Homo sapiens: one gene and its partner. Changing the gene in region 2 together with the main gene of any one other region gives a genetic interaction. Each region holds a gene or a part of one and is shown on either strand. Other genes may lie near its edges.

What was found.
Region 1: of UBA2 (region 2) and MFAP1, a change in one rescues a mutant of the other (synthetic rescue), as found in Homo sapiens cells (one study listed by BioGRID).

Annotation. Positions count from the first base shown.
Region 1 is NC_000015.10:43,805,813-43,821,690, forward strand, and holds part of MFAP1 (microfibrillar-associated protein 1), read right to left. Parts: intron 11,637-15,878; coding exon 11,417-11,636; intron 9,263-11,416; coding exon 9,133-9,262; intron 8,877-9,132; coding exon 8,689-8,876; intron 7,546-8,688; coding exon 7,437-7,545; intron 7,336-7,436; coding exon 7,175-7,335; intron 4,103-7,174; coding exon 3,943-4,102; intron 1-3,942. UniProt on the Homo sapiens protein: Involved in pre-mRNA splicing as a component of the spliceosome.
Region 2 is NC_000019.10:34,446,763-34,462,640, reverse strand, and holds part of UBA2 (SUMO-activating enzyme subunit 2), read right to left. Parts: intron 12,377-15,878; coding exon 12,277-12,376; intron 10,661-12,276; coding exon 10,494-10,660; intron 8,382-10,493; coding exon 8,288-8,381; intron 8,198-8,287; coding exon 8,085-8,197; intron 3,873-8,084; coding exon 3,717-3,872; intron 2,172-3,716; coding exon 2,075-2,171; intron 1-2,074. UniProt on the Homo sapiens protein: The heterodimer acts as an E1 ligase for SUMO1, SUMO2, SUMO3, and probably SUMO4. It mediates ATP-dependent activation of SUMO proteins followed by formation of a thioester bond between a SUMO protein and a conserved active site cysteine residue on UBA2/SAE2.

The DNA of each region.
Region 1 (15,878 bases), on a different chromosome or scaffold from region 2:
CGTGTTAGCCCAGATGGTCTCGATATCCCGACCTTGCGATCTGCCCACCTTGGCCTCCCAAAGTGCTGGGATTACAGGTGTGAACCACTGCGCCCGGCCGAGATGATATTCTTTTTCCTTTGTTGTATTTCTCCTTTTTTTTTTTTTTTTTCCCTGAGACAGCGTCTCATTCTGATGTCCTGATGTCCAGGCTGGAGTGCAGTGGGGTCACTACTGCTCACTGAAGCCTTGACCTCCCAGGATCAAACGATGCTCTCACCTCAGCCTCCTGAGTGGCTGGGACTACAGGTGCATGCAACTATGCCTAATTTTCTCCTTGAGTGTAGACGTGTCTTGAAGGTTGGCTTATTCTCTGCACTCAATGTGTTTGTTTACTCATGTGACTTCAACTCTGCATAGGCCTCTCAAATCTGCAATCCTGGATTTTTTACTGGCTTTCATATATCATAAGTTGGATATTTTATTGGGACTTGAAATGCACGTCTAAAGTGAAAACCATTTATTAATACCTAACCTTTCCATATCAACCTCTTCTCTTTAACTTTTCTGTTAGTAGGACCAGCGTACTCTTCGATTACCTAGATTCAAAACTGAGTAACCTCTGTGTGCATTCAATCAGTTGCCACATCTTACAAACTCTTACCACCTGGGTTATTAGTTTTCCTCTACTATCAGTCTCACATACTGTCATGGCACTGATGTTTCTAGACTGTAACTCATTATAATCTTTGCCTTGCTCAAAAACTTCAATGGTTGTCTATTAAATGAATACAACACCTAGGCTGGGCGCAGTGGCTCACGCCCGTAATCCCAGCACTTTGGGAGGCCAAGGCGGGCGGATCACGAGGTCACGAGTTCAAGACCCACCTGACCAACATGGTGAAACTCTGTCTCTACTAAAAATACAAAAAACACTAGGCCTGGTGGCGCGCACCTGTAATCTCAGCTACACAGGAGGCCAAGGCAGGAGAATCACTTGAACTCAGGAGGTGGAGGTTGCAGTGAGCTGAGATCGCACCACTGCACTCCAGCCTGGGTGACAGAGCGAGATTCCATCTCAAAAATAAATAAATAAATAAATAAATGAATACAACTCCTCTGTGTAGTAATCAAGGCCAAATATTATACAGCCTTAATCCACCTTTTCAGTTCTCTTTGCCGCTTCCCTTCACAGCTGATGCTTTCTGCCTCCACTCCTGCTGGTCTCCACCTGGAATGTCTTCCCAGCACCGAATGTCAAAAAGTCTATACATCTTGGCCGGGCATAGTAGCTCACGCCTGTAATCCCAGCACTTTGGGATACTGAGGTGGGCACATCGCCTAAGGTCAGGAGTTCAAGACCAGCCTGGCCAACATGGAGAAACCCCGTCTCTACTAAAAATACAAAAACTAGTTGGGCGTGGTGGTACACGCCTGTATTCCCAGCTACTTGGGGGACTGGGGCAGGAGAATTGCTTGAACCCGGGAGGCGGAGGTTGCAGTGAGCCAAGATCGCACCACTGCACTCAAGCCTAGGTGACAAAAAAAAAAATTATATATTTAATTTTTTTTTTTTTGATACAGTCTCACTCTGTCGCCCAGGCTAGAGTGCAGTGGCGTGATCTCGGCTCACTGCAAGTTCCGCCTCCCAGGTTCACGCCATTCTCCTGCCTCAGCCTCCCAAGTAGCTGTGACTACAGGCGCCCGCCACCACGCCTAGCTAATTTTTTGTATTTTTAGTAGAGATGGGTTTTCACCATGTTAGCCAGGATGGTCTCAATCTCCTGACCTCATGATCCGCCTGCCTTGGCCTCCCAAAGTGCTGGGATTACAGGCGTGAGCCACCGCGCCCGGCCCAAAATTATACATCTTAAATGCTTAAATGTTACAACCTTTACGTCAACCCTTTCAATCTTCTACCAAATATAACATCTCTCTCGTCAGAACCCCTACAGTACTTTACTTTTACTTATGTTATAGTGATTATGTATTCTCGCTAACAGTGCTAAACAGTGACCTTTGCATAGTATATGCACTAAAGCTTACTTACTCAATGAAATAAACAACATTAGTAAGGCTGGATGCAGTTGCTCTTGCCTGTAATCCCAGCACTTTGGGAGGCCAAGGTGGAAGGAGAGTTTGAGCCCAGGAGTTTGAGACCAGCCTGGGCTACATAGCAAAACCCATCTCTACAAAATAGAAATTAGGTGTGGTGGCACACACCTGTAGTCCCAATTACTCAGGAGGCTGAGGCAGGAGGACTGCTTGAGCCCAGGAGAATGAGGCAGCAGTGAGCCATGACTGCACCACTGCACTCTAGCCTGAGTGATAATATTACAATGCTGTGATACATATTTATAAACACATATGCTGAAGGAATTAAAAATAGCACTATCTTGTTTAAGAAAGACTTTTTAAAAACAATTTATTTTGAGACAAAGTCTTGGTCAGCCACCCAGGCTGCAGTGCAGTGGCACGATCACGGCTGACTGCAGCCTCAACCTCTCGGGCTGAAGCAATCCTTCCACCTCAGCCCCTTGATAGGTGACACTACAGGCACGGACCACCACGCCTAATTTTTGTATTTTTTGTAGAGATGGGGTTTTGCCATGTTGCCCGGGCTGAACTCCTGGGCTCAACTGATCTGCTGGCCTTGCCTCCCAAAATGTTAAGATTACAGGCATTAGCCAATGTACCTGGCCCACCAAAGGACTTTCACATACACTTTTCTTATGTATCTTAACTAGCAATGAACTGCTTCTCTAAGAAACTTGATTATTAAAGCTGCGAACTGCTTAAGCAAACAAACTTTATGACCGAAGCAGTACAAGAAGTAGTTCATAATCTCCACTGAATAGTAAGCTACATCTGCTGGAAAACTACCTAAGTAAACACTTCCTGCTAATCAGATAGACCTGAAACTGATTTTGGAGGGTGGCAGGGAAGCCGCCACTGAAGTTTTAACAGCATCTGCAGTGAAAGGCAGGAATTTAGTTGCAGTGGGGATATTTAGAATTTGCCACACGGCACTTGAAAAAGCTAGTCTAGTTTTTGGTGCAAACTGCTTTAACATTAGGAAATAAACCATACAGGGTTAACAGATTGCTATTTTGATCTTAGTCTTTATATGAAAAACAAAGATGACGGCATTCCATCTAATGGTTAGATAATAAACCATTTTTTTTGGTTAGTTACTCTTGGGTACTGTCAGTTCAGAATGAAGTGAACTAACTTTCTGCCACCCAAAAGTGAATTAATGTAAAGCTATTTGCAGAGTTTGGTTTTCACATAACCAAAACTTCTCATTCAGCTATGAAAGAATGACAACTATGTCATGTGGAGGACCTAATTAGTCCACTATCTGTACAGATCACTTCTCTATTTCATTTCCTCAATTTATCTAAGGCTGGGGATGATGGCTCATGCCTGTATTCCTAATACTTTGGGAGGCTGAGGTGGGAGGATTGCTTGAGGCCAGAAGGTCAACACCAGCCTGGGCAACATAGTGAAACCTGGTCTTTACGAAAAATTAAAAAAAAAATAACCAAAAAAAAAAAAAAAGCCAGGCATGGTTGTTGCATGCCTGTAGTCCCAGCTACTCTGGAGGCTGAAGCAGGTGTAAAGCGCAGGACGTCAAGGTTGCAGTGAACTATAATCGCACCACCGTACCCCAGCCTGGGTGACAGCGAGACTCTGTCTCTTAAAAAAAAAAAAAAAGTCTATTACATCATTTCCTATTTTTGAGAGTTGGGGCCAAAAGAGAGAACAGTTGATGCTACTTCTGTCATCCAATTGCTGATGCTTTTCTCTGAGTTTATATTGTTCAGAAGGAAAAAGCAAATGAGAAAGCTGACCACTGGCAAGTGGAAATTACATTCCAGAATATTCTTGAAGAGAAAAATAATTCAAAGTTTCTGAGTTATTCCTACTGCCCAATTTTCTGACTCTCTTTTCACTTCTTACCATGAAGAAGGCACCCCGGTGATAATACTTCTGTAAGAACTTGTATTTGCCCTTAACAGCTTTGTTGGTAATGACTTTGCCGTTTGCCCGAAGTTCAGCTCTCCTCTCTTCCTCAGTCAGGTTTCGCATGCGTTCAATTTCTGCTTTCTCCTTCTCAAGCCTGTCCAGGGAGCAAAACAATTTATTGGTACTGTTACAGCTTCAGAAAGACCAAATTATCTGAAAATAACAGTCCCATGTCATTTCAAGTATTAGTCACCTTCTTTAATTCTAGTCATTGCCTATTAGGAATCAAGATAAGGAGCTCAATAAACAAATGGGTGAGTTAGTCTTCATTATGTTTGCTAGACTAGGTATTGCCAACTTTCAAAAGTTGATTCTAGCCCTTCTGACGTTCAGACATACTATTACTGCTGGGTTTTCCAACATTACAAATTCTCTTTCCCTAAAAGGTCTTCTTAGCTTTAAAAAAAAAAAAAAATCAGTGAATTTAAAATAAGTGTCTGAGGCTTTGCTGGTATTCCTTTATGTAAGTGTATCATAATCATATAGGTGCTTGCATGTCATAAACCAAAGATTACCATCATTAATTAGATTGCAGTAACTTTTTTTTTTTTTTTTCTTTTTGGTGAGATGGAGTCTTGCTCTGTCGCCCAGGCTGGAGTGCAGTGGTGTGATCTTGGCTCACTGCAAGCTCCGCCTCCTGGGTTCATGCCATTCTCCTGCCTCAGCCTCCCGATTAGCTGGGACTACAGGTGCCCGCCACCATGCCCAGCTAATCTTTTTGAATTTTTAGTAGAGACGGGGTTTCACCGTGTTAGCCAGGATGGTCTCAATCTCCTGACCTCGTGATCCGCCCGCCTTGGCCTTCCAAAGTGTTGGGATTATAGGCGTGAGCCACTGCGCCCAGCCAGATTGCAGTAACTTTTTAGCCAGTGTTGGGGAGAGGGAGTGATATCCCTTGTCTCCAAATAAAATGCATACATACACACAATTTTGTGTACAATTTTATATTTTTTTGAGATGGAATCTTGCTCTGTTGCCCAGGCTGGAGTGCAGTGGCATGATCTTGGCTCACTGCAACCTCTGCCTCCCAGGTTCAAGCTATTCTCCTGCTTCAGCCTCCTGAGTAGCTGGGATTACAGGTGTGTGCCACCATGCCCGACTAATTTTTGTATTTTTAGTACAGACAGGGTTTCACCATGTTGGACAGGCGGGTGTCAAACTCCTGACCTTGTGAGCCGCCCACCTCGGCCTCCCAAATTGTTGGGATTACAGGCGTGAGCCACCACGCCCGGCCTTGTGTACAATTTTAAAGGGCACTTAGACTCCTACTCCTACAGGTCCAGGATAAAAATCTTAGAAACTACAGGCTGAGGGCCAGGCGTGGTGGCTCATGCCTGTAATCCCAGCACTTTGGGAGGCCGAGGTGGGTGGATCACCTGAAGTCAGGAGTTCAAGGCCAGCCTGGCCGACATGGTGAAAACCCACCTCTACTAAAAATACAAAAATTAGCTGGGCGTGGTGGCATATACCTGTAGTCCCAGCTACGCAGGAGGCTGAGGCAGGAGAACCGCTTGACTCCCAGGGGGTGGAGGTTGTAGTGAGCCAAGATTGCGCCACTGCACTCCAGCCTGGGCGACAGAGTGAGACTGTGTCTCAAAAAAAAAAAAAAAACCAAAAACAAAAAATTACAGGCTGAGTATGGAGTTATCTACTGTGTGTAGCTCATACTCAGGCAAGTTTTCTTTTTTTCTTTTTTTTTTTTTTCCAGATAGAGTCTCACTCTGTCACCTAGGCTGGAGTGCAGTGGCACGATCTCAGCTCACCGCAACCTCTGCCTGCCGGGTTCAAGCGATTCTCTTGCCTCCGCCTCCCGAGTAGCTGGGAATAACAGGCACACACCACCACACCCAGCTAATTTTTGTATTTTAGTAGAGATAGGTTTTCACCATGTTGGCCAAGCTGGTCTTGAACTCTCAGCCTGAAGTGATTCGCCTGCCTCAGCCACCCAAAGTGCTGGGATTATGGGTGTGAGCCATCACGCCCAGCCTAGAGTTATCTATTGATGGTTTCCTTTGTAATCTGGGATTACCCTCTCATACCTAGTAATTTACAGGAATGAGTGATGCAGCTCAGAAATGATTCTGCTGGGGCCGGGCATGATGGCTCATGCCATAATCCCAGCACTTTGGGAGGCCGAGTTGGGTGGACAACCTGAGATCATGAGTTCGAGACCAGCCTGACCAACATGGTGAAACCCTGTCTGTACTAAAAATACGAAAATTAGCCAGGCATGGTGGCGCATGCCTGTAATCCCAGCTACTTGGGAGGCTGAGGCAGGAAAATCACTTGAACCTGGCAGGCGGAGGCTGCAGTGAGCTGAGATTGTGACACTTCACTGCAGCCTGGGTGAAAAGTGAAACTTCATGTCAAAAAAAAAAAAAAAAGATTCTGCTCTAACACAGTGTAGATTATTTAAGTGCCACAAATTCTTCCCCTCACAGTATGTATGCCCCTTTTCAAAAAGTATGACTTTGCTGCTCCTCCTCTGCAGAGGTGGAGTCTGTTTCTCCACCTGCTTAAAGCTAGGTTGGCCTTGTGACTTGCTTTGACCAGTATGTGGCAAGATCGATGTATGAGTTCTGGAACCGACATGTCAGAAGACCTTGCCCTCTTAGAATGGTGCCCTGAGACTGCTATGTAAGGAAGCCAGTCTAATCCAGTGAAGGATAAGTGAGGTATCCTAACTGATAGCCACCACCTACTACTAACATGTGAGTGAAGCCCTTTTAAGTTTCCAGCCCAGTCAACCTTCCAGCTGGATGCAACTACATAAGTAAGCCCAGGTGAAATCAGTAGAGGAACTGTTCAGCCAACCTCCAAAGTTGTGAAAAGTAATAAATTATAGTTTCAAGTCACTCAATTGTGGGTTGGGTTGTACACAAGAAGAGATAACTACTAACAGTTACTAATTTTTGTGTCTACTAGGAAACTAAAGGGAGCACTGGCTGGCACTCTATTATGGACACACATCGACAAAGTGTTTTTCTCTTCCCTGATTTCACTGTAGCAAGTGAAACTCATATTCCAATTATAGGAAACTCACAAAGCAACAAGAACTCTGAAGGTGGCTAGAATGGAACTCACAGTAGGTAATGAGTCTCAGAGCTATCCTGCTAGAAACCTGTTCCATTAGCAGCATTAACTCTAGGCTCATCTTTTTACTCACGCTTCTCGATCTTCTCTGTCCCTCTTGATTCTTTTTAGCTCTCGAACTTTCCATGCCTCATATTCCTCCTCATCATTTTCATCATCAGTATTGAGTGCATCCAATGCAGCCAGGGATCGCTTGTTCTCTTCCAGCTCTTTTTTGGTTTCCTCTTCGACAATCTGGATAGGGAGAACAATTCAGCTTGGACTTCCTTACTCTCCTCAGACAAACCTGATTACACTATTTCTTGTACTCATTCCTTGCAACCACTCCCCAGTACCTTGAGTGTGTACTTGCGCCTTTCCTCAGCCATGCGTTTTGCTTCCTGCTCCAGCTCCTTCTGTTTCAATGCTTCGGCTTCACGTTCTTGAACTGTCACTCGGTCCTTCCTGCATCACAGAGATCCTGTTAATTGCCCAAAGTCCTTAGAGTGGAGTGCTTTGTTCCCCTAGACCTAGTCCCATCCAAATCAGACAAAAACCAAACAATCTTTGGCTCTATTATTTTCAAAGAGCAAAAAACGCTGAGTCATCCCAGGTCTTTTTTTTTTTTTTTTTTTTTGAGACGGAGTCTCACTTGTCGCCTAGGCTGCAGTGCAGTGGTGTGATCTTGGCTCACTGCAACCTCCGCCTCCTGGGTTCAAGCAATTCTCTGCCTCAGCCTCCTGAGTAGCTGGGATTACAAGAGTCTGCCACCACACCTGATTAATTTCTTTGTATTTTTAGTAGAGATGGGGTTTCACCATCTTGGCTAGGCTGGTCTTGAACTCCTGACCTCCTGATCCACCTACCTCAGCCTCCCAAAGTGCTGGGATTACAGTCGTGAGCCACCGTGCCCAGCCATCATCCCAGGTCTTTAGAGGACTAAAATCATGTTCATCTTTGAGAACTGCCTAGACAGCAAAGAACCTGCTGGCCTCTAAGCAGTAGGATTTCTAGCCATCAGGAAAGGAATAGGAATTTGCTCGTTGAGTTTAATTTTGTGCTTAAAAATATATGGCCTTGGCTTGGTGCCGTGGCTCATGCCTGTAATCCTAGCACTTTGGGAGGCTGAGGAGGACGGATCACCTGAGGTTGGGAGTTCGAGACCAGCCTGACCAACATGGAAAAACCCCCTCTCTACTAAAAATACAAAATTAGCCAGGCGTGGTGGCGCATGCCTGTAATCCCAGCTACTCGGGAGACAGAGGCAGAACTGCTTGAAACCAGGAGGTGGAGGTTGTGGTGAGCCGAGATCATGCCATTGCACTCCAGCCTGGGCAACAAGAGCGAAACTCTGTCTCAAACAAACAAAAAAAGGCCTTGGACAGATATATGCTCTATTACTGAAAAAAGAGATGTGAAAACAAACTCAGGTTCTCTGCTAACGCCAAGATATTCCTCAGCAGCTAGTCTGCCAAGGGTAGAGCACTAGCAAAAGCACTTTCACTCAGCGTTTAGATTTCAGAATAGCAAGACAGAAAACAGACTTTTGTCTCCAGGCCTGGAAAGTGGTAATTAAGTGGATTCAGATCTGGCTTGTGAGATACTTACTTTCGAATGAAGACTGGCTTAAGGCGAGGCTCCATCTCATCTTCACTGTCTGTGTACTCTTCATACTCAGACTCTGATTCTGACTCCTCTCCAGAACGACCCTCATCTTCCACTTCCATGACTTCCATCTCTTCATTTTTTCTCTCCTGTGCTCGCTGACGCATCATGCCACGCCGCCGCTCTATTTCCTATCAAGTCATATATATAAGCCAGTCAGTCAAATGGCCTATGGCTTTTTGTTCGTCTCATCAAACACAACAAATTCAAATGTAAAAAGATACAACTTAGTATCATTCTATTTTTAATCCTATCCCCACAAACAAGGAACATGATCAGAGTCCTGCCAAAGCAGTGATCTCATGTTTTTAAGGCTTCAACAAATGAGCACTGGCATGAACTTTTTCTTATATCCAGAAAAAAACTTCCCATGTTCCTTTATCATACCTCATCATCAATTTCCTCCTCCTCTTCTTCACTGCTGTCTTCTCGTTCCATGCGCCAAGCATCTCCTTCTACTTCTGAGTCACTCTCTCCTACCACTTCAGGTTCCACTATTTTTCGATGTCGAGCCAATCTGAAAAACAGTATCTCCAAATGTAACACCAATGTCATAAAAATGAAGTAGCATCAACTGCATTTCCATAGCCACAGAGCACATTATGTTTGCCTTCATTAATACTGAAGTTTTTTTTTTTTTGAGGCAGGGTCTTGCTCTGTCGCCCAGGCTGCAGTGCAGTGGTGCGATCTTGGCTCACTGCCACCTCTGCCTCCCAGACTCAAGTGATCCTCCCACCTCAGCCTCCTGAGTAGCTGGGACTATAGGCGTGCCACCACACCTGGCTAATATTTGTATTTTTTGTAGAGACGGGGTTTTACCATGTTGCCCAGGCTGGTCTTGAACTCCTGGACTTAGGCAATCTGCCCACCTCAGCCTCTCAAAGTGCTGGGATTATAGGTGTGAGCCACCATGTCCATCCAGTATTAAAGTATTGAGGTGGAGGAAACTGAGGTGCAGATTAAAGAAACTAAACTAGGATGTCAGAGCGAATAGTCAAGTTGGGCCTGAAATACTAAATGTATGTTGAGGCATCCTGGGGCACCACAGCAAGCCAGCAAACTCATAGGGATGCATTGGGATTTTTTTTTTTTTGAGACAGAATCTCACTCTGTCACCCAGGCTGAAGTGCAAGGGCATGATCTTGGCTCACCACAACCTCCACCTCCCAGGTTCAAGTGATAATCCCTGCCTCAGCCTCCCGAGTAGCTGGGATTACAGGCATGCACCACCACACCCAGCTAATTTTTTTATTTTTAGTAGAGATGGAGTTTCGCCATATTGGCCAGGCTAGTCTTGAACTCCTGACCTCAGGTGATCCGCCTGCCTAGGCCTCCCAAAGTGCTGGGATTACAGGCATGAGTCACTGAGCCTGGCCTGCATTGGAATATTTTTAATAGCTCAAGATAATTCACTTTCAACATTAAGTCACACTACATTCCTTTCGAGAATATCGTGTCTTTGTGAAACTGGGTTTTGGTGGCTGCTGTGATAAAAAGTAAAAGAAAGTATAGTATGAAAATCAATATAAAACAAGACATGAAAAAGTGACAGTGCTGATTCCAAGGTTTGAAAGGCTGTCAGTGTCCAACAGGCAAACAAATTCCACTAGTAACTATGGTTATGTGAGAATGAATAAAAGTGTTTTTTCCCCCCTGGGCACTGTAATTTTATTTTTTTTTCTTTTTTCTTTTCTTTTTTTTTTTTTGAGATGGAGTCTCGCTTTGTCACCCAGGCTGGAGTGCAGTGGCGTGATCTCGGCTCACTGCAATCTCTGCCTGCCAGGTTCAAGCAATTCTCTGCCTCAGCCTCCCAAGTAGCTGGGATTACAGGTGCCCGCCACCAGGCCTGGCTAATTTTTTTGTATTTTTAGTAGAGATGGGGTTTTACCAAGTTGGCCAGGCTGGTCTTGAACTCCTGACCTCGTGATCCACCCGCCTCAGCCTCCCAAAGTGCTAGGATTACAGGCGTGAGCCACCGCACCTGGCCATGGGCACTGTTAATCTTCAAGTGGCAAAGTTATTAGGACATAAATACTTATTAAGTTACTTGGCTCTAACTACTTAATAACTAAAATAAACAGAACTGTTTTGGCCCAGGAGCTCTGTGAAAAAACTCCTGGGACAATTATGAACGGTGAAAGTTCAGGACTCCTGGCCTACTCTATAAAGTAATGTCTCCATCAATATATAACATACAAAATCCCTCACTGGGAGGCTCTCTTTCTACCATGAGACCTTTATAAGGTCTTTTCTCCTACTTCAGTGTCATTTCCCCTTATTAGCATTTAGAATAAGTAGATGTATAAAATCAATTTACCAAAGTTTATAAAACATCTTTGTGCTAAAAAGACTCCTCTCAACAGCCAACAAATGGTCTGTGTTTTCTATTCCCATAAGGAGTTGAGTAGGTCCTTTAGGCCAGAAGTAACCTGCTGTTTCCTGAAGCTGCCACTTTGTAGCTTTGGTCATGTAACTTTCTTAGCCCCTTTGTGCTCTTAGTTTCCTCCTTTTGTGAAATGGGGATAATAGCACCTATTTCATAAAGTTATTGTATGGATTACAAGAATTAGCAAATGTAATCTACTTGGTAGTACTATTCAAGTATTAGCTATTATTATTATTATTAAGCTGTAGAGGTTCATGTTCAAGTAAACACAATCACAGACATTACCTCTCTTCCACATCTTCACTAATACGGTTCTGTAAACGCCGTAGCCGGGGGTCACTGGATGAATCCTCCTCCTGTTCCTCAGGCTCTGCTTCTTGTTCTTTGGCTTTCTTAATGAACTGAAATTCTTCATCCTCCTCATCTGAGGACTCCATAGGGGCATAGTCTGGCCTTTTTCCGGACACATAACGCTTTACCTTCACTTTTTCCATTGAAATCTCACCTGGGCGAGAAAGGTAACTTATGTTTCAGTAGCCTCTTTCTCAATGTGCTTCAACCCATCACGGCCTTTGCAAATAGAGCCCTTTATTCATAGTAGACAAGAGTCTAAGCAGAAGAAGAAGAGAGCCACTACCCAACCATCTACTCTTCTAATGGTGTTTTCCTACAAAGGCCAAGTCATGAGACTGCATCCTTGTGAAAGCCAACACTGATGATAATGAGGCTTACCTTGAGTACAATGAAGTAGAGGAAGGTAGGCAGTGAAACAGTAGAAAAAAGTCCCCCCCCAAAAAGGCAGACTGCATCCATCACAAATTCATGGTATCCCACCTCAACTATACCCTTAAACAAATTATTTGTAACAGTGCCCAGCACATAGTAAGGGTAATTTCTGCAGGAACATAAAACTGCTCAGGCATTCTTGTAGTTCCCTCTGGAATTTCCATGGCAGCCTTTATAACATACTGCCACATGACTCAATATTCTAATCTTACCTATTTCTACCTTCTTTTCCTTTACCTTATGTGTTATCAAACATGCAAGAGTATGTAATCTCTTACAAATACAATTCTTTTTTTTTTTTTTTTTTTGAGACGGAGTCTCGCTCTGTCGCCCAGGCTGGAGTGCAGTGGCGTGGTCTCGGCTCACTGCAACCTCCGCCTCCCGGGTTCAAGTGATTCTTCTGCCTCAGCTTCCTGAGTAGCTGGGACTACAGACGCATGCCACCATGCCCAGCTAATTTTTTGTATTTTTAGTAGAGATGGGGTTTCACCGTATTAGCCATGATGGTCTCGATCTCCTGACCTCATGATCCGCCCACCTCAGCCTCCCAAAGTGCTGGGATTACAGGCGTGAGCCACAGCACCCAGCCTACAAATACAAACAATTCTAGTGAACAAAGACAGTGAAAACTAACCAACTTATTTTATGAGTATAACCTTGATAACCAAATTGGACAGTTCAAAGGAAAACTTTAGGTGGATTTCACTTACAAACACAAATACAAAAATACTAAATAACGTAAGAGCAAATTTATCCCAGCAATATAAAAACTACCAAAAAAAAAAAAAGAAACAAAAAAAAAAAACCCCTAGACCAACACAACTTATTAGAATTTAGCCCAAGACTAGAAGGATAGTTTGACCTTAGAAAATTAATGAGGGGGCCAGGTGCAGTGGCTCATGCCTATAATCGCAGCATTTTGGAAGGTTGAGGCAGGAGGATTGCTTAAACCCAGGAGTTCGAGACCAGCCTGGGTTTAGACCTCATCTCTACTAAAAACAAAAAAAATTACCCGGACATAGTGGTATATGCCTGTGGTCCCAAGCTACATGGGAGGCTGAGGTGGGAGAATCACTGGAGCCCAGGAGGTTGAGGCTGCGGCAAGCCATGACCACACCAAGGCACTCACTTTAGCCTGAGTGATAGAGTGAGACCCTGTGTCAAACACAAAAATATATATAGCTGGGCACAGTGGCTCATGCTTGTAATCCCAGCACTTTGGAAAGCCAAGGTGGGCAGATCAGTTGAGGCTAGGAGTTCGAGACCAGCCTGCCCAACATGGCAAAACTCCGTCTCTACTAAAAATACAAAAATTAGCCAGACATGGTGGCACAGACTTTTTAATCCAAGCTACTCAGGTGGCTGAGGCAGGAGAATAACTTGAACCTGGAAGGTGGAGGTTGCAGTGAGCTGAGATCGTGCTACTGCACTCCAGCCTGGGCAACACAGTAAGACTCTGTCTTTAAAAACAAAACAAAACAAAACAAAATTCCAAAAAAAAATGTACATAGATAGATAGATGAACAATGGGAGGGAAGCAATATACTATTTTTACTTTTTAAAATTTTATTTTTGTTTGTTATTTTTTAAAAGGTAGAGAAAGGGTCTTGCTATGTTGCCCAAGCTGGCCTTGGACTCCTGGCCTCAAGTGATCCTCCAGCCTCAGTCTCCCAAAGTGCTAGGATTACAGGTGTGAGCCATCTCTCCTAGCCTACTATTTTTTAAAGTCACATTTTTAAAAAATAATAGATACAGCAGACTTTATACTTAATGATAAAACAATAGAAACATTCTATTTATTTATTTATTTATTTTTTTTGAGATGGAGTCTCGCTCTGTTGCCCAGGCTGCAGTGCAGTGGCATGATCTCCGCTCACTGCAACCTCCGCCCCCTGGGTTCAAGCAATTCTCCCTGCCTCAGGCTCCTGAGTAGCTGGGATTACAGGTGCCCACCACCATGCCTGGCTAATTTGTGTATTTTTTAGTAAAGACAGGGTTTCAACATGTAGGCCAGGCTGGTCTTGAACTCCTGACCTCAGGTGATCTGCCAGCCTCAGTATCATAAAGTGCTGGGATTTCAGGTGTGAGCCACTGTGACTGGCCAGAAGCATTCTCTTTAAAAATCAGTGGGCATCCAGCTGGGTGTGGTGGCTCACGCCTGTAATCCCAGCACTCTGGGAGGCCAAGGCGGACGGATCACAACGTCAGGAAATTGAGAACATCCTGGCTAACACAGTGAAACCCCATCTCCACTAAAAAGACAAAAAAATTAGCCAGGCATGGTGGCGAGTGCCTGTAGTCCCAGCTACTTGGGAGGCTGAGGCAGGAGAATGGCGTGAACCCGGGACACAGAGCTTGCAGTGAGCGAGATAGCACCACTGCACTCCAGCTTGGGCAAGAGAGCGAGACTCCGTCTCAAAAAAACAAAAAACCAAAAAATTAGCCGGGTGTGGTGGCACGCACCTGTAGTCCCAGCTACTCAAGAGGCTGAGGCAGGAGAATGGTGTGAACCCAGGGGCGGAGCTTGCAGTGAGCCGAGATCGCGCCACTGCACTCCAGCCTAGGCGACAGGGTAAGACTCCATCTCAAAAAAAACAAACAACAACAACAAAAAAAACCAGTGAGCATCCTAATGTTGTACCTATCACACCTTCTAGTCAACACTGTATTATGGTTCTAATTTGGGCAATAAGGAAAAGTTATAAGGATTTAAAAGGAAGAAACTGCCATAATTTGCAGATTATATGGTTGTCTTTGTAGAAAACACAAGATAACAAATAGATAAAAGAGTTCAGAAAAAATGCTAGATAAAAAACTTATTTATAAAAATAAGCATACCTGTACATTAGCTACATATAATTAGAAAGTACAATTTTATTTTTATTTATTTTCTTGAGACAGGGTCTCACTCTGTTGCCTAGGGTGGAGTGCGGTGGCGCAATCATGGCTCACCGCAGCGTCAGCCTCCTAGGCTCAAACCATTCTCCTGCCTCAGCCTCCCAAGTAGCTGGGACTACAGGCGTGCAACACCATGCCGGTCTAATTTTTAAAATTTTTTTGTACAGACGAGGTCTCACTATGCTGCCCATGCTGGTCTTGAACTCCTGGACTCAAGTGATCCTCTTGCCTAGGGCCTCCCAAAGTGCTGGGATTACAGGCGTGAGCCACCATGCCTGGCTTATTTTCTACTGTTTGAGAAAGGGTCTCATTCTGTTACCCAGGCTGGTGTGCAGTGGCATGATCACAGCTCACTGCAGTCTCAACCTCCTGGGCTAAAGTGAGCCTCCCTCTTCAGCCTCTCAGTAGCTGGGACTACAGACAGGTACCACCCAGGTAATTTTGTTTTTTTGTAGAGCACTGTATTTTTTGGGGTCTCGCTATGTTGCCCAGGCTGAAGAAAATATAGTTTTAAAATACCATTAACGGTCACAAGTAATCTATAAGATACTGTGGAATAAATCCAACAAACAATGTACAAGGCTTTTAGGAGGAAAAATATGTAATTTTATTGAAAGATAAAAAAGATGTAAATAGAGAAATATTTCATGTTCAAGGATGAGAAGATGGCAACTGCACCTGAATTAACCTATAAATGTATAATCTATCATTTTAATGCAATTCCATTAAAAGTTGTCTCCAGGCTTATTCCAAAATCATATGGAAGAACAGGAGGCCCCAAAATGCCAAGACAATGCTGAAGAAGAATAAAGCTGATGGGGGCGGGGAAGGAGGGGTGGGGCATAGTTTACCAGATATGTCAGTGACCCAGGAAGTACACAGAGATCAATGTAACAGAGAAAAGAAAAACAAACTTATATGAGAACTCGAGTATATTATAGGGATGGCATTAAAAATCAGTAGAAAATGGATGGGGTGAGAAGGGACAATTGGCCAACCATATAGTAAAATTAGACCTCTAACTTCCACCACAGACACAAAAATTCCAGATGGATTAAAGACG
Region 2 (15,878 bases):
TTTTTGGCTTTTTAACATTTTTTCATTATTTATAAGGAAAACGCTTAGAACGCCTTTCCCTACGTTGACACCCAGAAAATACTAACAGTTTCTCCTAGTTCTTTTCCAGATCTGTTGCTTGCTTTACCATTTTAATCTACCAGGAATGCCCTTGGCATTCTTACCCAGATTTCCACCTCCAAGCCCTTTCACACATCTCCACTGACTGCAAACCTCTTGGAACCATCACATTCAAAAGGAAAACCAGTTAATGTGGGTTCACATTTTGGTGAACTAGCATCACCTGTGAAGTCTTGTGCTCGCCTAACAACGCTGCTAACATTGTAATGCTATTCCTCAACTGGGCTCCAAGTTCTGACTTTGCAAATCTCAAATCTATCACCTGCCTCTGCCTTAGTAAAAATCCCTCAATCCCCTCCTCCCTAATAGCTCCCTGCTACTCCCCTGTTTAAACCCTGGTGGCAGGTGGCAGTGAAATACTGCCCCTTCCTCTGGAGGGTAGGGGTCAAGGGAGAGGAGGAAGACACACACTGCACATGTGACAAGAAAGACTTCAACCTCACCACTGCTGCCAACCCCTCAGCACCCCAACTTCCAGCGAAACCAAATAATGGGCCACTCCCAAGGCAGTTTAGGTTGTTTCACAAGTTCACACCTTTGTAGACAGATGTTCATTCTGTCTAAATGCTCTCTTCTTTGTCCAGGGAGTCCTCACTACTACTTCAAAAACTGACCCAAGAGTACTCCCTCTCCTATTACTCCCCCTCCGTTTCACAAAGCTGAATATACTTTCCTTAGATTCATACTGTGTACACACTCTTTCTAGTTTTCCTTGGACGATGCTCAATCCAGCTGTTGACAATCTCCCTTCTTCCAGGCTGCAAGGCACTTCAAGCCAAGGTCTGTTGTCTTATTCATCCTTGACTTATGAATACCCAAAACTATGCCTGTCATACAGGACTCCACACATATTCTGGTAAGTGCTGTCTCACCCTCCATACCACATGTATTCCGTACAGAAGGGTCACGCTGAAGCCACTGAAATTCCTGACCAGTTTCCATTTTTAAGCTAGCATTTGAAAGAGCTGGCTACAACTAAGGGACAGCATATAATCACAAACAAACATTTTTTTAAAAGTCAGCTGGCTAGAATGAGGCTTGAATACTCAAGTAGACTCCTAAAATAGAGCACCACACAGCCAAAACATGGCCTCCAATTACACATGACCTAATAGCCCAAAAAATTTCTCAACAAGCAACTACAACCAAGAAGAACCTTGACACTAAACCTGAATTTAAAGAAGGCTTAACATCTGAATCGCCATCAGGACCTCACAAAGTATGAATAAATGACCAATGGACAAATAGGTATGAATTAAGTCAATATACAGGGAAACACAGGGCCTAGAAACCTTCGAAAATAACAGTACACTGGCAAAAACTGGGACATGGAAAAAACGAGAACAGCAACTCAAGAAATGAGCTGCAAAAGTGACCAAGGAGGTATAGGATCAACGAGTACAGTCTGAAGGAGGAATAACTACGATGCAATCCTTACTATGAAAGCTTCAACAGAATCAAATGTATTGTACCTTGTATAGCAAATGTGTTAGCAAAAGGGATGAACTGCTTGAACTTTTGAAAGGAAAGATCAGAAAGCCAAAACCGGGCACTGAATTTCAATAATCTTTCTGCTATATAGTAGGAACAGGCTACCAAGGCTTCCCCACTCTTGGAGAAAAATCTCCAAATGCCTTAGAACCCTACCCACTGTGATCTGACAGACAGAATAGTCTTCTCATCACAAGGTTAGCTCCCAGGATCCATGATATCGGCAAGGAGGTTCCTTGGAAGTGGACAAGAGCACTGCAGTCCCTGAAAATGTCTGACATGGAGTTCCCAAACATGGAAGTGTGATGACCCCCAGCAATGTCACCTTGAAAGAGCACCTTCATGACCAAACACTGCCACTCTCTGCAATACTGAGTATCACATACAGTAAATGAATCAACTAATGTGCACTCTTCAAGCAGTCTCCTCAATGAGAGGAATGAATAAATACAATGTATGATACCTTCCGTCTCTCCCTCTTCGGAAGATATTAGGATTGTTCCTTTCCCATCTTCAATTTGGACATCTGGTGCTACCATAGCAAATTTTTCTTTCACTATCTACAAAAAAAAAAAAAAGGATTCAAAATATTAACGTAGGTAATTAAAGATCATAAGAAATCCTAGACTTCTATAAAGGCTCTTACTTTCCCCTTCTATTTATTGGAAACCGGCGAAGTCACTCTTCAAGATCCCTTAGAGCAAGCAGGAAAGCCGTGGGGATTCACCTGAGTTCCATCCCCACATCTGACCACTGATGCAGATCAGATCCAACTTCATCTCAACAGGGGACTAGGAACTCCCTGGCTGGCTCTTGCTACTTTGTCTTTCCCTGCAGGTTAGGTAGTGAGCTACACACTTGACATATTTCATTTCAGTCTCTGTGCCAACCCTGTAATGGCAGGGGTTTCATAGATGGAATCAGTTCTCATTAACCTGACTCTCAGATAAGTCTCCCCGTTCCATGCATTTAGAGAAGTGATAATATTCTGTTAAATCCTACCAGCTCCTAAAAAAGAAAGAAGGAAAAAAGGAGGAACTCTCTATAGGTCTAAGAATCCTACAAATAGAGGAATAACCTTGAAGCTCAAGAATCAGGAGATACCAAAGATAATTATTTCCTAGAAAAGAAACTGGGGCAACCACCCGCTGCTGTACCTGCCACTTCCTTGACCAAAACATAAGCTCAAATCAATCCGTCCTGCCTAACCAGTTTCTGGAAGAAAGGCCATTCCCTATCAGGCAGCACTGCTATTTGAGAAGGGCCACTTCCTCCTCTCTCAAGAGGCATGTAAATATGTAGCATTATGATGGTCACAACCAGAGAACAATAGGAAGTGATCCCAAAGTGGAAAGTGACACTTTTGGGTCATAAAAAAAGAAAATCTCCCCTAATACACAAATCTAGCCAATTTAACAGGAACTTAAGGACCAGACCATGTCCTAAACCCCCATTTCTTCCCTCGCTTCAGCTCCAGAGGTGAATCCAGGTGTGCAAATGCCCTATGTCCTCAGGGACTAACTTACCATATCAGAATCAGGTCATATTAGATAAGTGTGTACCACCACTTAGCCTCAACTCAGACCTCAGAAATAACAAAAGCCCCCTAATTTGCTGGGAGTGGGCACTGTCCAACACGCAGAGAAACCAAAACTCTGCAAGTTACTTATACCCTTTAATACAAAGCTGGTAACTGGGGCTTTGCTCTACTGGAAATGCAAACTTTGCACTGCATGCAAATACTTATCTGCTCACTGCCACAGTGAGGACCATTCAAGGATACCTGTTATTTGTCAAAAAATACAGAATTTACCCACTGCCTGGGAAGCAAAGAGCAAAGAAGTCCTCTGCTTGCTGTGATACTGTGCCACCACTGTGCTGCAGATTCCAGTCAAATACTCCTACTCCATTCTGGGAATGTGAGGCACTTATTCTGGAACCACAGACAGAAAAGCCTGCAGGAATCCAGAAGGCAAAATAACCCAGGAAATCACAGCCACACATCTCTGCAGTTGGACCTTTTCAGAATCAGCAGCTAGTGTTTGTTTGTCATCACAGTAATACTGTAAAAGCAAAAGGAAAAGAGACCCAGGCCTTGCACTGACCTTGTCTTGTAAGGTGAGAACAGTCACTTTATGGACATTCAGCCGCACAGTCACCTCTGGCTTGCTGGCACATACATAACAATTGGGGTTGGGAGGATCCAGTGCACAAGGCACAAGAAGCTTCTTTCTTGGGTTTGGTTGTTTATTCAAAAAAATCTTTGGAGGAGAAATAACAGGCAGAAATCGGAAACGTGCTGTAATTTTATACGCCATACAATCTAAAATCTCGTTTACCAGATATCCAATAAAAAATGACTTAAAAATTCCCGTCCAGATGGCAAAATGGATCAGGAAAATCATGACCTTTTTAGGAACCTGGTTTTTCAACCTTCTTTTTTTTTTTTTTTTTTTTTTTTTTTTTTTTTTGAGACGGAGTCTTGCTGTCGCCCAGGCTGGAGTGCAGTGGCGCAATCTCGGCTCACTGCAGGCTCCGCCCCCTGGGGTTCACGCCATTCTCCTGCCTCAGCCTCCCGAGTAGCTGGGACTACAGGCGCCCGCCACCTCGCCCGGCTAATTTTTTGTATTTTTTTTTTAGTAGAGACGGGGTTTCACCGTGTTAGCCAGGATGGTCTCGATCTCCTGACCTCGTGATCCGCCCGCCTCGGCCTCCCAAAGTGCTGGGATTACAGGCGTGAGCCACCGCGCCCGGCCTCAACCTTCTTTTCTAATCAGCTAAAGGCTAGGCTAGCTAGGCTTGCTGAAAAGACATCTCCTTGTATTATATAAGACTCCGCGTTCTTCTGCAACCTGATTTGGCAAGAGTAAGGGCACAGGCATGTTAATCTGTGGTGCCATCATTGTATCAGCAGCTGGTGTCCCTCCCTGAGGCTATTCTTATCAAGCAAGCAATCTCCTGACAAGACCAACACATTAATTTCTCCAGTTAACGATAGTGCCTTTCACAGTTGTCTAGAATCAACATCACTGCCTTCCCAAATTTTCTGATTAGAATAACATTTATATAATGAGGGAAAAAAATGTATTTCTGGCAGTATATGTACCTATTTACCATTTCTCTAATACTAAACAAAAAAATAATTAAGAACCAAGGCAAATATACAAATTACACTGAAATTAAGAAAAGCTCCAAGCTCCTGCTTCTACTAAAGTTTAGAAAACACTAGCAAGATCCAACAGAAACAACAAATGTCAGAAGACAAGAAGCTGAGACACAAACCTTTATCTTGTGACTACAATGTAGTGTTGAGTCTGCTAAGAGGAATGAATTCTAAAGGAGTACTCTACGGATTCCCCTGAGAATACAGAACTAAATCCCTCAAGAGACACTAAAGCCGTCCTCTGTAAAATAGCTTCTCCGTACAATGAATACTGGTAGGTGGAAGGGCTAGAAGCAAACTGCCCAGGCCAAGCAGGCTACAGAGGGAGAAAGATTTGTTTGATTTTGGGCTTCACCGGGAAGGTAAGTGTGCTAAGGGAAACTGACAATAATAAAAGCAATTGCTACCACTATTAATACCTGGGCTAACATTAATCCAGGCTGGAATTCATTTGCAAATGTAAAAAAATGAAATCCAGATATATTACTATATTTTTTCTTGAGGCAGAGTTTCGCTCTTGTTGCCAGGCTGGAGTGCAATGGCGCGATCTCGGCTTAATGCAACTTCCGCCTCCCAGGTTCAAGTGATTCTCCTGCCTCAGCCTCCTGAGTAGCTGGGATTACAAACATGCACCACCATGCCCAGCTAATTTTATATATATATATATATATATATATATATATATATTTTTTTTTTTTTTAGTAGAGACCAGGTTTCTCCACGTTAGTCAGGCTAGTCTCGAACTTCCAATCTCAGGTGATCTGCCTGCCTCGGCCTCCCAAAGAGCTGGGATTACACGTGTGAGCCATCGTGCCCGGCCAGATATATTACTATTAATAGTCCAAGAGTGGCATGGAGCTAAGCAGGCAAAGAAACCGGAAGGATGTGATGGGAAATAACAGACATTTTAATAAGTTCAGTAATTAGTACTGTTGGTGAGCTCAAAGGGATACTACAGCTTCAGGCTGCTATAAAAAATTTTTTTTAAATAATTTAAAAACTGGGTATCGGCCAGGAACGGTGGCTCACTCCTGTAATTCTAGCACTTTGGGAGGCCAAGGTGGGCAGATCACCTGAGGTCAGGAGTTCATGACCAGCCTGGCTAACATGGTAAAACCCTGTCTCTCCTAAAACTACAAAAATTAGCCAGGCGTGGTGGCACCCGCCTGTAATCCCAGCTACTGGGGAGGCTGAGGCAGGAGAATCACTTCTACTTGGGAGGTGGAGGTTGCAGTGAGCTGAGATCGCGCCACTGCACTCTAGCCTGGGTGACAGAGCAAGACTCCATCTCAAAAAAAAGATACCAAAAAATAAAGTTCTTAGAAATTAAAAATATAACATATACAATAAAAGTTTAAATAGAAAACTAAATCAAGATGGCAGACTGGGCAATTTGATTCTGTTCCTTCAAACTGAAATTTCATGAAAATAAAATATTTTAAGAGTGCATCGAGGCTGGGCGCAATAGCTCACGCCTGAAATCCCAGTACTCTGGGAGGCTGAGAAGGGCGGATCACTTCAGGCCAGGAGTTTGAGACCAATCTGGGCAACAGGTGAAACACCGTCTCTACTAATAATACAAAAATTAGCCAGGTGTGGTGGCATGTGCCAGTAATCCCAGCTACTTGAGAGGCTGAGGCAGGAGAATCGCTAGAACCCAGCAGGTGGAGGTTGCAGTGAGCCGAGATCACATCACTGTACTCCACTGTACTCCAGCCTGGGTGAGAGCAAGATTCCACCTCAAAAAAAAAAAAAAAAAAGAAAAAGAAAAGGAAAAAAAGAGCGCATCGGGCCAAGTGCAGTGGCTCACACCTGTAATCCCAGCACTTTGGGGGGCCAAGGTGGGAGGACTGCTTGAGCCCAGGAGTTCAGGACCAACCCGGACAACATAGCAAGACCCCATCAGTTTAAAAAAAAAAGGCCGGGCGCAGTGGCTCATGCCTGTATGCCTGTAATCCCAGCACTTTGGGAGGCCGAGGTGGGCGGATCATGAGGTCAGGAGTTCGAGACCAGCCTAACCAACATAGTGAAACCCGTCTCTACTAAAAATACAAAAATTAGCCGGCATGGTGGCATGCACCTGTAATCCTAGCTACTGAGGAGGCTGAGACAGGAGAATCGCTTGATCCTGGGAGGTGGAGGTTGCAGTGAGCCAAGATTGTGCCACTGCACTCCAGCCTGGGCAACAGAGCTAGACTCCGTCTCAAAAGATAAAAAAAAGTAAGTGTGCATCAATGACACTGCAAAATAACAGTACCATTGCAAACTAGATATTTTTTGAAATTTCTGAAGGTAAACAGGTCTTTTTATTTCAATGATAAAAAGGAGAACCTAAACAACAGTCAAAGTATTGGCTAGTATTTCCTAGGAAGCCTTCTTGAGCTGGTAAGAAAGCGAAGTGTCTGCAGACACAACATCGAAGGAAGGAATCCAAAGAGAACATCCAAGTAGTGTTAGCCTTAAGAGATACACCTACCCCACCCACCACTAAGGTAGGAACTCTTAAAACAGGAGACCCTTACACAAAGCAAGGACCTGAAAAGAGAGGAGAAAAATACTTTCTCCATAAAAATGATCTTAAACTTGGTGCTTAGTGGAGGGGGAGGAGTATCTTCCCATATAATTCATGACAATAACATAGGGCACGTGCAGGTTTGTGGTCTGAATACATAGGTATTGAAAATCCTAATTTAAAAGTGGTCCTGTATTGGCAGTGCCCCAAGCACCCAAATATAATAACCACAAATGCTCTTTGAAGAAATACATCTACAATGGGTCCCTAAAGAATTACCAGACACAATTCTAATACACATTCAGTTTTTAAAAAATCATAAACCATACAAGCAAATCACTACGAGAAATAGCAGAAATGACAGCAGACTCACCCATAAAGATCTCAGACATTAACATTATCAAAAACTATACAATAAAATTGAAAAGAATGACTCAATAGGAGAATGACTGAACAGGGGACTATAAAATGACCAAGCAAATTTTAAAACCCATATAGCACTCTCAGAATTGAAAAACAGTTGAAACATCTTCTTAGTATAAGGACCGCACAATGAATTCTTCGAAGAATTCAGTAAAATTGGAAATGTTAAAAGCAAAAGCAACTTCTTAATTTTTCCTTTTTGTTGCAATTTCCAGGAAGCTTAAACACACACTCACTTGGTAACCAGAAAAATTACTTTTCCATTGCTTTAAACCAATTTTATTGTTTTCATTTTAAAAATTATCTGTTTAATGTACTTTTAATTAATGATTTTTTTAAGGGGGGTTGCATAAAAATGCAAACAGAAATACTCACTGTTCTGCACTGGTCTATTTTTCCTGATAAAATCTTCAATCCTTCCAATACTATCAACCCAGCAATTACTGCATTAGTAGTAGCAATAGCAGGAATAATGTTCCCTGCCATTGCTGGGAAAAAAAAAAAAGGATGAGTATGTTTCACTGTTTAAAAAACAACTTCAAGGTTTTAGTGATACAACTTTAGTACAAATAACTTACATTTGATATCAAATCTACTCTTCATATTCATACTGAAAATATGCATCCTGAGGTTTGCAGCAGAGGTGACAAAATCCATTGCAGATGGGTCATCCTGCCAATAATTTAAACAATTTAACAAGTTTCTCCACAAATTGACTATTTTGAAGCATTACTTTCAGAACAATACTTTCACGTGTTTATAATACTATAGACTTTCGACTAGAACAAGAGGTTGCTGAGGGAAAGACCAGTCAGCTAGGACCTCACAGTAGCATGGAGGTGGGTTAAGTAGGGGGTGGGGTCTCATCATCAGCTCCTCTGGTCCAGTAATGAGTCTGACAAGAACACCAAGAATCACCAGCTTCTAGGAACTCACTCCAGCCTAAACAAAGGCACCGGAGACTCAGTTGTATACACCGGAATCTCAATTCCACTCACTGACAATGGCAACCCTTTCCTGGTTCCATTCATCAGTAAAGAGAAGGTTGCTGGACAAACACAGAATCCAGGCCAAAAGACGAGCAATTTAAGAAAACTGTTTTAGGCTGGGCATGGTGGCTCATGCCTGTAGTCTCAAGCAATTTAGTAGGTTGAGGCAAGCAGATTGCCTGAGCTCAGGAGTTTGTGACCAGCCCGGGCAACGTGGCAAAACCCCATCTCCACCAAAAACACAAAAAATTAGCCAGGCATGGTGGCGCACACCTAAAGTCGTCCCAGGTACTCGGGAGCCTGAGGTGGCGGGATCACTTGAACCCGGGACGCAGAGGCTGCAGTAAGCCAAGATCATGCCACTGCACTCCAGCCTTGGTGACAGAGTGAGACCCTGTCTCAATTAAAAAAAAAAAAAAAAAAAAGCTGTTTCATTAACACTTCAGAAAAACCTGGATGACTCTTTTTCACTCCCCTTTGCCAAACTCTCTTCATATGCACCACTCTCTCACATATGCTGTTTCTTCAAATAAGGCAATACAATCCAAGTTTTTCCTGTTACGATTTGTATTTTTCCTGAGACTATATCCTAGTCTCTAGATTTCAGCAAGGCTTCCTGCTTTGAACTGAGAAGATATCACCCTGGTCTAAAATTCAGAGGCATCACAGAACAGAAGAAAAAATACTGAGAGCATAGTTCTTTATGTATTTATTGGCTGGCTGTGAATCCTCAGGCAAGTCAAATTCCTTGAGTCAAAATCTCTTAATCTATTAAATAGGGGAAATTATATCCCCATCTCATAAGGTGTGGTGAGGACTAAGAATACTGAATACTCAACACAGTGTCTTCCCTAAGCAGCTGTCTTATCACACCCATTACATGTGGACTTTACTCAAGAGGATAACAATTCCCATTCCAAGGGCTCTTTATTTAGCCTCTGTGCACTAATCAAACTTCCCAAATCACTAGCATAACAATAACAATGAAAATATGAAAAGTTACCCTTTAAATATCACAAAACCCAAGAGACTAATGTTTATAAGAATCCCAAGAATCTAAATATACTAGCTTCATTTTAGTGTATTTAGATGTCTGATTCAACCAAAGTTTCAAAATATGTACACACAAATTTTTCTTAGGTTTCTAAAATTGGCCTTTATGCCTTAAGACCCATGACTAATCTTCAACACCACAGGAACATACAAGCTTCATGAGATAAAACACTTTTAGCCATAGAAAATACTGATTACAATTAAAATTAAGTAAAATTAGTTCATAATATCAAATCTCAAAAGATGACATAACTGCAGAGTACTATTAAATATGATTTTAACTTCTAAGAATAATTACATCTCATTTTTGTATCAAGAGCTCTGTCTTTCAGACCTCTGAAATAGTAATAACTATTTCAATTCAAAGACAATCTTACTATTTTCAAGGGCAAATCAGGCCAATGAGATGTTTTCTCCAAATGATTTTATGACTTCTATGAATACATCTACTCTACACAAGAAACATTTCACTTTAATATATTCACGTTATTTTTCTAGTCAACATAATTATAAACCCTGAACACATCACTAGAATCCCAAATGAAGTTTTATGATATTGCTTGAATTCATGTACAGAAAATTCAGCTCCATACAGCAATTAGAGCTGAAAATATCCAAGCCAAATCAATATATTTCCTCAAAATCTAGTAAATATTCAAAAAATGACTAGCTTCTATTACATCTCAAGAACTAAAACACACTTTTGACATGTAAGTACTTGCCACACATTGTCAAAACGAACCTTATCCCATATGAGCTCAGCTCCATCCCCCTTTTCTGCTAAATGAACTCTCAAAGTCTCGATGCTCTTTGAAAAAAGACGTGCATAGCTCTTTACATCTAGAACCTGCTGGTCTTTCAGGCCTAACTGGGGTTCATTCTGTTGATCTGATGCATTCGTTTCTTCTCCTAAAGAAAAAAATATATATATTAGAAATTTCACTAATTAACATCATTCCTCTACTGTGCTCTGTTTAACAAGTTCAATCCCCGACCATTAAGAAATCAAATATGAAATAAATTCCATTAAAATAATTATCATGGGGCCAGGCACGGTGGCTCACGCCTGTAATCCCAGCACTTTGGGAGGCCGAGGCAGACGGATCATGAGGTCAGGAGATCGAGACCATCCTGGCTAACATGGTGAAACCCCGTCTCTACTAAAAATACAAAAAATATGCAGGCATGGTGGCGGGCGCCTGTAGTCCCAGCTACTCAGGAGGCTGAGGCAGGAGAATGGCGCGAACCCGGGAGGCGGAGCTTGCAGTGAGCCAAGATCGCGCCACTGCACTCCAGCCTGGGCGACAGAGCAAGACTCTGTCTCAAAAAAAAAAAAAAAAAAAAAAAAAAAAACTGTTAAACCTGAGATAGGAAAGGTACAAGACCACCTCAGTACCTCATAGGATTACTGGGAGATTTGAAGATATAATGTAGATAAGATGATAAATAAGCATTAGGCCCAGCACCTAGTGAGAATGAGAACTCAGTAAGCGGACACTACTAGAGTCATAATTAAATCTGTTTGATAACTATCCCTGATTGTTGAGAACTGCTCCAAAATGATATCCCAAGTCTCCCGGGATCTTTTAAGTTTCAATGGGTGCTATACTGCTGTGCATAAATTAATCCTAATACAGTTCAGATAAAGGAGAGACAAGGAGTGTTAAAGGGGAGTGGGATGAGAAAGCAGCCACTACAATAGTTTTCCTACATTTAAAATTTTAAAATATGCTGGGCACAGTTGCATACAGTCCCAGCTACTCAGGAGACTGAGGGAGGAGGATGGCTTGAGCCCAGGAGTCCAGGGATGCCTTGTGCTATGACAGCCTGTGAACAGCCACTGCACTCTAATCTGGGCAACATAGCAAGACTATGCCTCAAAAAACTTTTCATTTCTAAACATTAAAAAAATTTTACATTAAAAATGTGTTTCTAGATTAAATCTTAAAGAGATAATCACAAGGGTACAAAGGTGTACATAAATAGGCTAGGCGCAGTGGCTCACACCTGTTATCCCAGCTACTCGGGAGGCTGAGGCGGGAGAATCGCTTGAACCCAGGTTGCGGTGAGCTGAGATCGTGCCACTGCGCTCCAGCCTTGGCAACAGAGCGAGACACGGTCTCAAAAAAAAAAAAAAAAAAAAAAAAGATATACATAAATATATAGCAATTTCAAAACTTTATTTCAGGGAAAATACAAAAACACTACATGTTAATAAGAGACTAGTTAACTATACTGACTGACAAAAGCAAGTGAGAGTTTATCAATAGTATGATTCCATTTACGCAGTGTATAACGAATGCCTGCATCTGTGTACATAGGGCGGACCACCAGAACACTCCTGAAAATGTTATTAGTGGCTATTTCTGAAGTGTGGGACTTCAGTGACTTTTGTTCTTCATATTTTTTTGCACTGTTTGAATATATGAAGACATATCATTTTCAAGCAACAACAGGGCTATACAAAGACTTTACGCGAGGATATTTCCAGCTTAGGTGTTCCAAGACTAAAATGTATTCTTTACCTTGACTTTGTACTTCAGCCCAGTCCAACGGAACTGGAGGTTTCCTTTTCCGCCATAGTTTGTCCATTGTCAACAGATACCTGATGTCATCTTTAAAAAGCTTACAAAAGAAAGACAGATCCCATGAACCCCATAATCCCTAATTGATAAGATACAAGAAAACGTCATTGCTGATCTATATTACACTATGAAATCTGATTTAAAGATACATGTCATATACCAGCAGCATAACAATTTTCAAAAGGAAAAACATTTGTAAAAGGAAGTTCTAACAGAATCTCTACATTGAAAACAGCGAAATGCAGAAGTGCTCTGAGGAATGCAGAGTAAAGGAGCCCTGAACTGCCGACTGCCCCTGCCTTCCTAAGTCACCTCTCCAAAAGCTTCCCTAAATTTAGCTCCAAAGATCAGTCTGAAGCACAATCATACAAATAAATGTACATTATGTAGTTGTAAATAAATGTACAACTACAGACAATCACTGAGCCTAGGGATGCCAGTCAGCAATGCCTCCAAGCTCATGGGGACATGCACACAAAGTATACAGATTTTTAAACTAAAGTGCTTCACAACAGAACTTCTGAACTGCGATATCTTTAAAATGTGCCCTCCCCTCCAAAAATAACCCACAGAAACATGAACAAAAATAAAATGTAAAAACCCCCACACAATTATTACAAAAACAAAAACATTACAAGTAGATTGAGAAACTATCATATGAAAAGATGTGTTAGAACTTCAAGTGATTTTAATATTTTTTTCTTTTTCCTTATCTGCATTTTCTATTGTTGATTAATTTATTCAACACATTTATTGCTGGTACCAGGTAAGAACAGAAATTTGGCTATATTTAAAAATCACAGCCATTTCTATCAAAATATACTTAATCCATCAATACTAACTGAGCATCCTTAATCTTTATAGAGAATAAGCCAAACATACAAATAATCAGAATACAATTTAGTGTGAATATCACAAAGCCTTGAGTAAGGATTTCTGGCCAGGCGTGGTGGCTCACACCTGTAATCCAGCACTTTGGGAGACCAAGGTAGGTGGATCACGAAGTCAAGAGATCGAGACCATCCTGGCCAACATGGTGAAACCCCATCTCTACTAAAAATACAAAAATCAGCTGGGCGTCGTGGCGCGTGCCTGTAATCCCAGCTACTCGGGAGGCTGAGGCAGGAGAATCGCTTGAACCTGGGAGGCGGAGAGTGCAGTCAGCTGAGATCGCACCACTGCACTCCAGCCTGGCAACAGAGTGAGACTCAGTCTCAAAAAAAAAAAAAAAAAAAAAAAGATTTATATTTTATCTAAGAAATAAGGAAAGAGTCTCCTTATGACAGCAACATGTGAAATGGGTACAAAGGCAAGGAGATGAATCCACTATGACTTGGGTAACAAATGTGGCTGGAAACATTTTGTAGAGGATCTTGAAGGCTTGAACCAACAGTTTTCTAAGCCTAAGCTCCATCTCTTCTATTCAACTATTACTAAATATCAGGAGCCCCTCAGATTTCTGTACTGAACCATCTTTTCATTCTGTCCTCTGTGGTGTATCATGTCCATTTCCAGTAGTTAACCACATCTATAAACCTAGGAATCCCAACCATATCCCTAGTTGAAACCTCTCTACTTATCTACAAAACCACTTCTCTAATGTTCCAAAAGAATCTCAAATGAGTTCAAAATTGATTATTATCACCTTCTCCTACCCTCCCCCAACCCCTCTACACACATCTGCCTCCCAGCTCACTTATATCGGAGAACAGCACCTCTGTTCTTTGACCTGCCCAGGCTGAAGTGCAGTGGTGTGACCATAGCTCACTGAAGTCTCAACCTCTTGGGCTCAAGTGATATTCCTGTCCCAGCCTCCTGAGTAGCTGGGGACCGCAGGCTCAGGCCACCATGGCTGGCTATTTTTTTTTCGTTTTTAGAGATGGGGTCTTGCTATATTGCCCAGGCTGGTCTTGTGCTCCTGGCCTCAAGTGATCCTCCCGCCTCAGCCTTCCAAAGTGCTAGGATTACAAGTGTAAGCCACAGTGCCCAGCCAGGTACCATTTTTTATTCCACTGATCTTCACCATATACATGCAAAGTCCTGTTTAGTCTACTCCTCCATGTTCCAGTGGGAGTACAGATGGCTGTACTCCAGATTATTCTGGCACTGCACAACTCCAGGGGCACTGTCCCAGATTGGTTATAATATGAATATCAGATCCTAGGGTAGTATGTGCATCCCCTCTATCCCCTTATAGTGATCCTGTAAGACCACCTTTCAATGGATTCCCACTGTCTTGCTATAACATCCTTAAGAAGGCCTAGAAAGTCTGCCTGATCTGACCTCAACTTCTCTCTCCAGTCATCTTTTTCCACTCTCCCCCTTAATGGGATTTATGTCAGTTTTCCAACTGAGAGTTTCCTTGTACATACTGTACCCTATTCAGAGTTTCCTTGTACATACTGTACCCTATTCTGACTCTTATTCTTTCAAGCCTTGGGCTTAAATGTCACCTGCTCTAGAAAGCCTCTTCTGAAGCCTCTCCCTAACAACATCTGAAATGGGTATGCAGGCCAGGAGATGAGTCCTTTAGATGAAACTTATTATTCAAGGGCTGCAAAGCATCTGAACTTAATGTCATTAAGACTCTGAAGCTGAAATTTATTGTTCAAAGTTTGACTTCTCATCTAGACTGTGAACTCCCTCTAAAGAGCAAGGACTCTGTCTTCTGTCTTGTTCACAACTAAATCCCCTGTACTTAAAGAGGTGTCTGGCACACAGCAGATGTTTAAAATTATCTGCTAAATAACAGATTGGAGATGCACTTCAGATTTTTCTGGCTTTCAAGTCTTGCTCAGATTGGAATGGAAATAAGGATACTGGTTTGGAAGATACTGCTGTTGACCATATCGAAGTTTACGGCATCTTAAGTATAATCAAAATAAAAACCATTATGATGCTTAATACTGAGTGTCAACTTGATTGGATTGAAAGATGCAAAGTACTGGTCTTGGGTGTGTGTGTGAGGGTGTTGCCAAAAGACATTAATATTTGAGTCAGTGGACTGGGAAAAGCAAACCCTCTCTTAATCTGGGTGGGCACCATCTAATCAGCTGCCATTGAGGCCAGAATATACAGCAGCCAGAAAAACATGAAAAGACTAGACTGGCCTAGCCTCCCAGCCTACATCTTTCTCCCATGTTGGATGCTTCCTGCCCTCAAACATCAGACTCCAAATTCTCCAGTTTTGAGACTCAGACTGGCTCTCCTTGCTCCTCAGCTTGCAGATGGGCCTATTGTTGGGCCTTGTGATCGTGTGAATTAATACTCTATCAACTCCCCTTTGTATATATCTATCCTATTAGCTCTGTCCCTCTAGAGAACCCTAATACAACCATGTTTTAGAAAAGGGCTGTAGTGAGGAAATAAATGCAATAGGGATAAGAAAGTCAACCTGTGGGCTGGGCACGACGGCTCATGCCTGTAATCCCAGCACTTTGGGAGGCCGAGGCAGGCAGATCACCTGAGGTAGGAGTTCGAGACCAGCCTGGCCAATATGGTGAAACCCCCTATCTACTAAAAATACAAAAATTAGCCAGGCA